Linked DNA regions of Homo sapiens. The protein of the gene in region 1 purifies or fractionates together with the protein of each later gene. This does not show direct contact. Each region holds a gene or a part of one and is shown in the gene's direction. Other genes may lie near its edges.

Region 1 (4,985 bases):
GAGCAATGCAGTGATAACCTAGGGAAGGGGGTAAGTAGGGCCTTAGGGTCCCAGCTCAGTAGCCTTAGGGCATCAGGGAAAGCTCCCTGGAGGAAGGTCCATCGAAGCCGCTTTCTGCGTGCTTACAAGAGCCCCCAAATAAGATGATTTCAGATGTTGATAAGCGCTAGAGAGAAGACAGAAAAGTCCCGACCCGTTGATAAGCGCTAGAGAGAAGACAGAAAAGTCCCGACCGTGCCTGTGCTTGCAGATCCAGGTGCCACACAGATCAGCTGAGCTATCCTCGGGGCTCTGGTCCTTGTGGGCACCCTCTCCTAGCCCCTGGCTTGGACTGATGAGTGCCGGCCAGGGACACACAGACAGGGAGAGGTCAGACTCCGCCCGAGCCTTTCTGGACTTCTAGCTGGAAGGCATGGCTCTTTGGCCAATGGCTATGATGCTTCTGCCATTGGCTGGAACACTTTGCTGCTGCCTGGTGGTCAAGTGGCAGGGCATCCCCAAGTGACAGGGAAGACCTTGGCTCTGCCACCGTCTCAGGTGTGTTCTAGGTGGGGCTTCTTCCAGGACAGCAGGTCACTTGGCACCTGGCACATTTGGCTCAGGCAGCTTTGGCTCTGAAGCTGTCCGGCATTTCCAGTCAGGGCGTTGGGGACATTCGGCATCCAGCAGTCCTTTCCGAAGGCCTTCCTAGAGTTGGGTTTCTGTTATCAACCTTCCAGAAATGGCTGGATGTCCCTACACATTTGTTTTCGATTTCTAATGCCGAAGGGCCATTCCCCAGGGGGCCAGCAGTGCTTGTCTCAGGGAGGCCGGAGGCTGGGTGCTACCTTCTTATCTCCCTATTCTGCTTTTTCTGTAGCGACCACATGCTGCTTTTGTAATAAGAAAAAGTGATCGGCGAAGTGATAACGTGACTGTTGTCATGGATCTGTGGTTTGTTGTAATGATTTCCCTGCTGTACCAGGGTTAGTTTGCCAGTTTTTGCATGTTACAAACATCGCTGAGCGGGAATAACTGGCCAAAAAAATAATCAGAAGCAAAAAAGAGGAGGGAGGGCAGGGACACGCCTTTTAAGAAATTTTCTGAAGAGCGGAAGGAGGCAGGAGGCTGGAGCGCCTTCTACTTTCCAGGTGCTCCAGCGGGCCGGCCCTGGGGACTGAGGCTTTGGAGCTAATTATCTATTGTGCCCCTGGCAGTGGGCCATGCTGCACAGACAGGGGACCTGCCTGGGCACAGTGGGGACGGTCCGTTTTTCCTTCCAACTTGGCTTTCTGGGTTAGACATCAAACCAACCGCTGGCATTTGGTCTCTGCCAGGTTCTAGGCGCCCACGAGGTCCCCTCGAGGAACATCTTTTCAGTAAGTACCTGCCCGTGCCCACGCATGTGTCTTTCTCCATGTGGCCGCAATTGTGCGCGTGTGTGCACGGCCTGTGTCCTGTCCTCTGAGACGTGGTCTCCAGGGGCTACCCACCCCTCTTCTGGGAGTTGTACTAGCCAGCATCCCCCTGGGAAAAGGTCCCACTTTCCTGGTCACGGCCTTGCTCTTGGAACCTTGGCTGATTGTGTCTTCTTCCTTTCTCATCCTTTCTAGGAACAAACAATTGTGAGTATTCTTCTCTGCCTGTTAGGTTTGGGGGGCTCTTAGTTGCTTTGGGGTTAACTAAATTCCAGGTGGGGGTGGGCTGCTGCTGACCCAGGAGCCCTGGATGAGCAGCCCTGTCTGGGACGGGGCTGCCCCAAGTTGGCACCTTGTGACGGGGCAGCCTGTGGGGTCAGCGCCAGTGGGAAGAAGGGAATTGGCTTGAGCCCATGGGGGCCGAGCTGGGGGCATGTGGGATCCCCGAAGGCCCACCTTCACCCTCTGCCTCCCACAGCCTCCGTCCGCTAAGTATGGCGGGCGGCACACGGTGACCATGATCCCAGGGGATGGCATCGGGCCAGAGCTCATGCTGCATGTCAAGTCCGTCTTCAGGTATGGAGCTCCTGGGTCCCCGCCTTGTCCTCAGCCAGGGGGCCCTGAGGACTTTGTGCCAAGAGGGGCATTGCGCCCAGAAGCACTCGGTGAGGCCATGGCAAGACGACCTGTAAGCCCAGGCCTTGCGTCCCATGGCCTGTGATCCCGCCAGACTGGCCTGGGCTCGGGGAAGGTGGCACCAGTCCTGCCACAGTGTGCATTGTGGAGTTCAAGCGTGTCCCCATCAGTCAGTGAAGGTGGGCCCAGTCCCTTCTCAGTCAGAGCCAGGTCAGGGCAGGTAGCAACAGGAGAGAGGTAGCCTGGGCAGGCTTCCTGGAGGAGGTGCGGGGGGGTCTGGGCCAGCCTCCCTGACCCTGCCGTGCCTCAGGCACGCATGTGTACCAGTGGACTTTGAAGAGGTGCACGTGAGTTCCAATGCTGATGAAGAGGACATTCGCAATGCCATCATGGCCATCCGCCGGAACCGCGTGGCCCTGAAGGGTGAGCTCCAGGGCCAGGGGCCAGGATGGGGCCCTAGGTGTGATTTCTTTCTTGCTTTCTTCCTTCGTTTCTTGCTTACTTGCTCGCTTGCTTGCTTTCTTGCTTGCTTTCCTGCTTTCTTGCTTGCTTGCTTTTTTGCTTTCTTGCTTTCTTTCTTGCGTTCTTTCTGAGATGGGGTCTCGCTCTGTCGCCCAGGCTAGAGTGCAGCGGTGTGATCTCGGCTCAGTGCAACCTCTGCCTTCCAGTTTCAAGCGATTCTCCTGCCTCAGCCTCCCGAGTAGCTGAGATTACAGGCGCCCGCCACCACGCCCAGCTGATTTTTGTATTTTCAGTAGAGAGTGGGTTTCACCATGTTGGCCAGGCTGGTCTTGAACTCCTGACCTCGTGATCTGCCCGCCTCAGCCTCTCAAAGTGTTGGGATTACAGGCGTGAGCCGTCGTGCCCAGCCCCTGTGATTTCTTTTACCTCCCTCTGAGCTGACTCTTGTGGGGCCCCACGGCTCTGATTTCAGGGCTTGTCTGGCTAGAGAGGACCCTCGTGCTTGGAGACTGGGTGGACGCCTCCTCGGGCCTGTTTGCGCTGCGATGCTGGGATTCGAGTGAGAGCAGCTGTGTGTGAGCCTGTCCAGTGACGGGCTCCCTGATGGGTTCCCTCCCACCCCTCCTTCCCTCCTGAGACAGTCCTCTCTGCTGGGGTCAGCTTTGACCCTCAGCATCTTTCTTCACAAACCAGGTATCACAGAGATGCAGTTCCGACCCTCTGCCTGGCTCCTCGGCTGCAGCCAGCCTGGAGGTGGATGGCACAGCCCAGGCAGGGATTCTTGGGGCTTCACTTGAGGTCCTTAAACTACTTCCATTGCTCATTTTGCACACTCAGCCCATTACTTGCACTGTGTGAGGAGCGTGTGAGCAAAGATGAACCCAGGGGGAGCCCCAGGCCCTGGCAGTCAAGTAGAGGGGCCTTTGTGCCAGCCACAGGGGACCCCCGCGCTGTGAGTGGAGCAGTCTGGGTGGGGTACCGCTCACCAGCAGGCGGCCTCTGCTTGGCGCCCTCTGACTGCTGTCTCCAGCGGCCACTGGCCTCTGCTTCCCTTCCTCCAGGTGTCCTGGGTCGTAGGGTAGGGTCCGGCCAATCCGTGGCCTTCTCCAGGCAGCCCCCGCCTGCCTCTGAGTGTGGTGCCTTGATGCGGGGGCTTGGCAGTAACACCGCCAAGGCCACCTTGCTAGCTCCAGCCTGGCCGGCCAACCTGTTAGTAAAGAGTGGTCACTTTCTGTTGCTCCAGAGCCTGGATGGAGAATGGCATGGCTGCCTGGCTGGTTGCCAGCCTTTATTCATTTATTGACTTGTTCATTCCGTCGTTCAGGGGTTATTCATGGAGCACCTGCTGCACCAGGTGCCCTTCGAGATCCCTGAGCGTGTAGCCTCGTGGGGCTTAGGCTGGAAGTTGCATTCTAGCATTCTAGTGTTCAGGAAACATTTTTGCTCCCCAAGTCTTCTGACCCCGGCAGCCTTCAGCTGCCCTGCTGAGGTGGGGCGGGGATGGGCAGTGCCACTAAGCCTGTGTTGTGTTTTGTAGGCAACATCGAAACCAACCATAACCTGCCACCGTCGCACAAATCTCGAAACAACATCCTTCGGTGAGATCCGGGTGTGCGGGCTGGGGGCTTGGTGGGGCTAAGGTGGGGTGAGCCAGTGGAGTCTGGCTCCAGTCAGCCACCTGTCAGGCCTAGCAGCCTCTTTCTCCGTCCCCTCCCAGCACCAGCCTGGACCTCTATGCCAACGTCATCCACTGTAAGAGCCTTCCAGGCGTGGTGACCCGGCACAAGGACATAGACATCCTCATTGTCCGGGAGAACACAGAGGGCGAGTACAGCAGCCTGGAGCATGAGGTGTGCATGGGGGGCCCGAGATGAGCCCCCCCAGCGTCAAGATTAAGGGGAGAGCTTAAGGAACCAGGGACAGGTGTACCCTTAGAGGGCAGGGGCTGTGCCCGAGGGAGAAGCCAGAAATAGGCAGACAGGGTTGCTTCCCACGGTGGCCCGGTCGCGCCAGCTTGTTTGGCCAGTGCTGCTCTTCAGTAGCACATGGGTCTCTTCTCCCCATGCCCTCCTCAGAGTGTGGCGGGAGTGGTGGAGAGCCTGAAGATCATCACCAAGGCCAAGTCCCTGCGCATTGCCGAGTATGCCTTCAAGCTGGCGCAGGAGAGCGGGCGCAAGAAAGTGACGGCCGTGCACAAGGCCAACATCATGTATGTCCCCTGACCTCTCTGCGAGCAGTCCAGAAGCAGCTGCAGTGGCCTGCTTGGGCCTGCTCTGAGGGATTTGTGGTCCAAAAGCCCAGCTACCCACCGAGGTGCCACCCTAGGCGAGTGCCCTGTTGCCCTCGAGGCCTTGCCAGAACCCACACTTAGGGGAGGTGGGGTGGGATTCTGTCCATTTTGCTGGTGAGGGACAGGTTAGAATTCAGACCCCAGCCTCCTGGGGCCCTCTGCACGCCCCGTCCCTCTGGCTGACTGTTGCGATGGCCAAG
Region 2 (4,015 bases), on another chromosome or scaffold:
ATGGTTATAGCCACGTGGCAGGTGGTGGTTGAGGAGTTAGGAAAATTGAGTGACCTTTTCTGTTCTCTGATTTGGTGGTATCCTCTTGAATTTAGGCTTAGGCAAAGAATAGTGTGTAAGCTCTTGTGTCTATAAATTTAAACTCTTTGAGAAACAGCAGGTTTTCTATTTTGACGGAATTCCATACTATTGGGGAAGGATGTGTCATTAGAATGGAATTTCATCTCTGTTGTTGATGGGTATAGCTATTAGCTGGTATAATGTGGGAGCAGAATGATTCTCCGTGTAATCAGGAAACCTGGACTCACCCAATTAACTATTACTCCTAGGCAAGTAATTTGGTATCTTAGGTTCCACTCACAGATGGAAGAAACCAAAATATGGCCCTGCCTGTCCTATGGGAATTTTTCAGAGGATAAAGTGAAATAATAGGTAGGAAAATACTTTTTAAAAGTATAAGGATTATACAAACGTAAGTTGGTAAAAACAGCTTTATTATTCATTCATTTAACAAATATTTATTGAAAACCTATTATATGCCAGGAACAAGACAGACAAGGTTCTTGCATTCATGAAATATATATATATACACACACACATGTGCACATATATGCACATACATACATAGACATATATATACACATATGCACCTATATACACACATACATAGACATATATAGACATATATATACACACATATGCACTTATATACACATATATACACACACACATATATATATATACACGATAAAATGGAGGATAGCTGGGCACATGGTGGTGTACACCTGTAGTCCCTGCTACTTGGGAGGCTGAGGCTGGAGGATCATTTGAAGCCAGGAGTTCAAGACACTGTGGTGTGCTGTAATTGTGCCTGTGAATAGCCATTGCACTTTAGTCTAGGCAACATAGCAAGACCCAATCTCTTGGAAAAAAACAACAGGATACTGTTCGAAGGACACACTAGTGGTTGTAGTGCTTAAAGGAGTGGGCTCTGGGGCCAAACTGCCTGTGTCTGAATCCTGGCTTATACCTTATTGTCTAACCTTGGACAAGGTATTTAACCTCATTTTTACAGTTTTCTATCTGTGATATAGGGCAAATAATGAAATCTACTCCACAGGGTGGTTGTGAGGATTAAATTAATTATTGCCAATATTTTGCTTAGAACTATTTGTGTTACTCAAAACAATGTTATTGATGAGGATGCTAAGGATGAAGTATAACTGGGGGAGGGGAAGGAAATGGGGGTGGGTACTATTTGAGATAAGGTGGTCAGATGTGACTTGTGTAGGACCAAGACCTGAGAGCTGAAAATGCGTCCAGCCATGTGATGCAACACATCCTCCAGGGATGAGCAGGTAAAAAGATCCTTAGGCAGGAAAGAGTGTAGCAGCACCAGGAGGAAGCTGGTGATAGTATTAGTTCTCTGCGCTTTATTTTCATGAGGAATAAGTGAATGAAATCAGAGTTTGGTCCTGTTCATTTTGTTTCTCACAGTGCCTTGTGCATAGTGGGTATTCGATACATCATTATTGAAGGAGTGGATATTTGTCATCTACCACTGTAGGTGTTTTTGGACTCCCTCGATGCCCAGGAGAGAGCTCTCACATCTGTGACTTCATCCGAAAAACACTGAATGCTGGGGCGTACTCCAAAGTTGTTCAGGAACGGTATGTATGGTTAGCTGAAAAGATTACAGACCTGTCACCGTGTGAAAATATCATGCTGACTTTCATGCTCACAGTGATTCCAGCAGTAGTTCCTTGTGATATTCAAATGAGATCTTTTTTTTTGAGATGGAGTTTCGCTCTTGTTGCCCAGGCTGGAGGGCAGTGGCGTGATTTTGTCTCACTGCAACCTCTGCCTCCCAGGTTCAAGCGAGTCTCCTGCCTCCGCCTCCGAGTAGCTGGGATTACAGGCATGCGCCACTACGCCTGGCTAATTTTGTATTTTCAGAAGAGACTGGGTTTCTCCATGTTGTTTAGGCTGGTCTCCAACTTCCCGAGCTCAGGTGACCCACCCACCTTGGCCTCCCAAAGTGCTGGGATTACAGGCGTGAGCCACCACACCCGGCCTTCAAATGAGATCTTTTTGTACTATCTGCTCAATTTCATTGTAAACCTAAACTTGCTCCAAAAAGTCTATTAACTAAAAAACAAAGAAAGAAAAACAAGGGCATTTTTCTATGTAAGAAGAATGTAATTATAACAGAATAAATTTCCATCCTTAAAAAACAAACAGAAAGCCTTTAGAAAGTACTAAGCTCAAGGAATTATTGTTGGTATTTAGAGGACAGATTCTTTATGTCATTAGCTACTCCCTATATCACTGTCCCTGACTACTCAAATGTATTTGGGTATTTAGCATGGCCAGCCTGGCATAATGGCTCACACTTGTAATCCCAGCTCTTTGAGAGGCCAAGGCAGGAGGATTGCTTGAAGCCAGAAGTTCACAACCAGTCTGAACAACATAGTGAGACCCCTGTCTCTGTTAAAATCTATTTTTAAAAAAAAAAAGATGCAGAATTACTTTTGTAGTATGTGCTTGTTCAGTTGGTTCCAAACTTAATTGTATATCAGAACCACAGGGAAATTCATTAAAAATGGATTCCTGGGCTTTATCCTTAGAAGTTGTGGGCCGGGCATGGTGGCTCACGCCTGTAATCCCAGCACTTTGGGAGGTGGAGGCAGGTGGATCATGAGGTCAAGAGTTCAAGACCAGCCTAACCAACATGGTGAAATCCCGTCTCTATTAAAAATGCAAAAATTAACTGGGCGTGGTGGCGCACGCCTGTAATCTCAGCTAGTCAGGAGGCTGAGGCAGGAGAATCACTTAAAAAACCCGGGAGGCGGAGCTTGCAGTGAGCCGAGATTGCGCCACTGCACTCTAGCCTAGGCAACAGAGGGAGACTCCGTCTCAAAAAAAAAAAAAAAAAAGTTTTGATGGTAGGTCTGACGTGCTCTTGATGATAGCTGGAGTTTGGGATCAACTAATATCCTGTGGGTTTTCCAAGTGTCTCATTCTTGTCAAATAACAACTTTTTATTACAGTATATTCTTGAAGCCATTTTCCAAGATACAGCCTTGTGACTGACTCATGTTGTAACCACCTACAGCTAATAGCTGTCTTTTCTTTTCCCACTCGTTGGCTACACAAATAGCCACAAAGCTGTTTTGGGTCAGCAGTACCACCTGATGGTTATTATAGAAAACTAAGATACTCTGTACCTCTAGCTCCTTTTTTTTACCCTCAGGCTACACCAAGCTTTCCCCTTTGCCTGGTTTGATTGGCTGTGGCTAATTACAACTTAATTATTTATATTCTACATATTCTCTGTTCTCATGGATTTGCATGGTATTTAAACTTCATTCTTCTTCCTTTACTCTTTATTCTCACTCTTGCCCAGTTGCCTCCAAAACGCCTATACTTTTCTTTCTTTGTGTGAACCAAAACAACCCTTGGCGATCAGAATTCTGTTAGTGATGCTAAGTGAGCAGTCCGTCGGGGGGTGACAAGTGACACCTAAATACTGATTAAGGCGGGGCGCAGTGGCTCATGCCTGTTATCCCAGCACTTTGGGAGGCCTTGGTAGGCAGATCACTTGAGGCCTGGAGTTCAAGACCAGCCTGGCCAACATGGCAAAACCCCATCTCTACTAAAAATACAAAAATTAGGCAGGCGTGGTGGTGCACACCTGTAGTCTCAGCCACTCCGGAGGCTGAGGCTAGAGAATTGCTTGCACCCAGAAGGCGGAGGTTGCAGTGAGCTGAGATCGCACCACTGCACCCCAACCTAGATGACAGAGTGAGACTCTGTCTCAAAAAATAAAAATAAAAAATACTGATTAAAAGCTATAGATTGATGTGTTTATCTTCACTTCCTCCTTAAACTTTAATTAAGTGGTAGCAGAAGAATAAAAAGTGATAAACCCACAAGGGCAGAGAGAACAGGGAGAGAGGAGGTAAGAGATCATAAAAAATGGCAACATGTTTTTGAAAGCAAGCAAGCAGATGAA

What was found. The genes of interacting proteins can lie anywhere in the genome.
Region 2: the proteins of IDH3G (region 1) and PPT1 purify together in Homo sapiens (co-immunoprecipitation; one large-scale study listed by IntAct). This does not show direct contact.

Annotation. Positions count from the first base shown.
Region 1 is NC_000023.11:153,787,183-153,792,167, reverse strand, and holds part of IDH3G (isocitrate dehydrogenase [NAD] subunit gamma, mitochondrial isoform a precursor), read left to right. Parts: intron 1-1,316; coding exon 1,317-1,358; intron 1,359-1,592; coding exon 1,593-1,604; intron 1,605-1,875; coding exon 1,876-1,973; intron 1,974-2,343; coding exon 2,344-2,456; intron 2,457-4,032; coding exon 4,033-4,093; intron 4,094-4,212; coding exon 4,213-4,345; intron 4,346-4,570; coding exon 4,571-4,704; intron 4,705-4,985. UniProt on the Homo sapiens protein: Regulatory subunit which plays a role in the allosteric regulation of the enzyme catalyzing the decarboxylation of isocitrate (ICT) into alpha-ketoglutarate.
Region 2 is NC_000001.11:40,087,065-40,091,079, reverse strand, and holds part of PPT1 (palmitoyl-protein thioesterase 1 isoform 1 precursor), read left to right. Parts: intron 1-1,567; coding exon 1,568-1,670; intron 1,671-4,015. UniProt on the Homo sapiens protein: Has thioesterase activity against fatty acid thioesters with 14 -18 carbons, including palmitoyl-CoA, S-palmitoyl-N-acetylcysteamine, and palmitoylated proteins. In contrast to PPT2, PPT1 can hydrolyze palmitoylated proteins and palmitoylcysteine.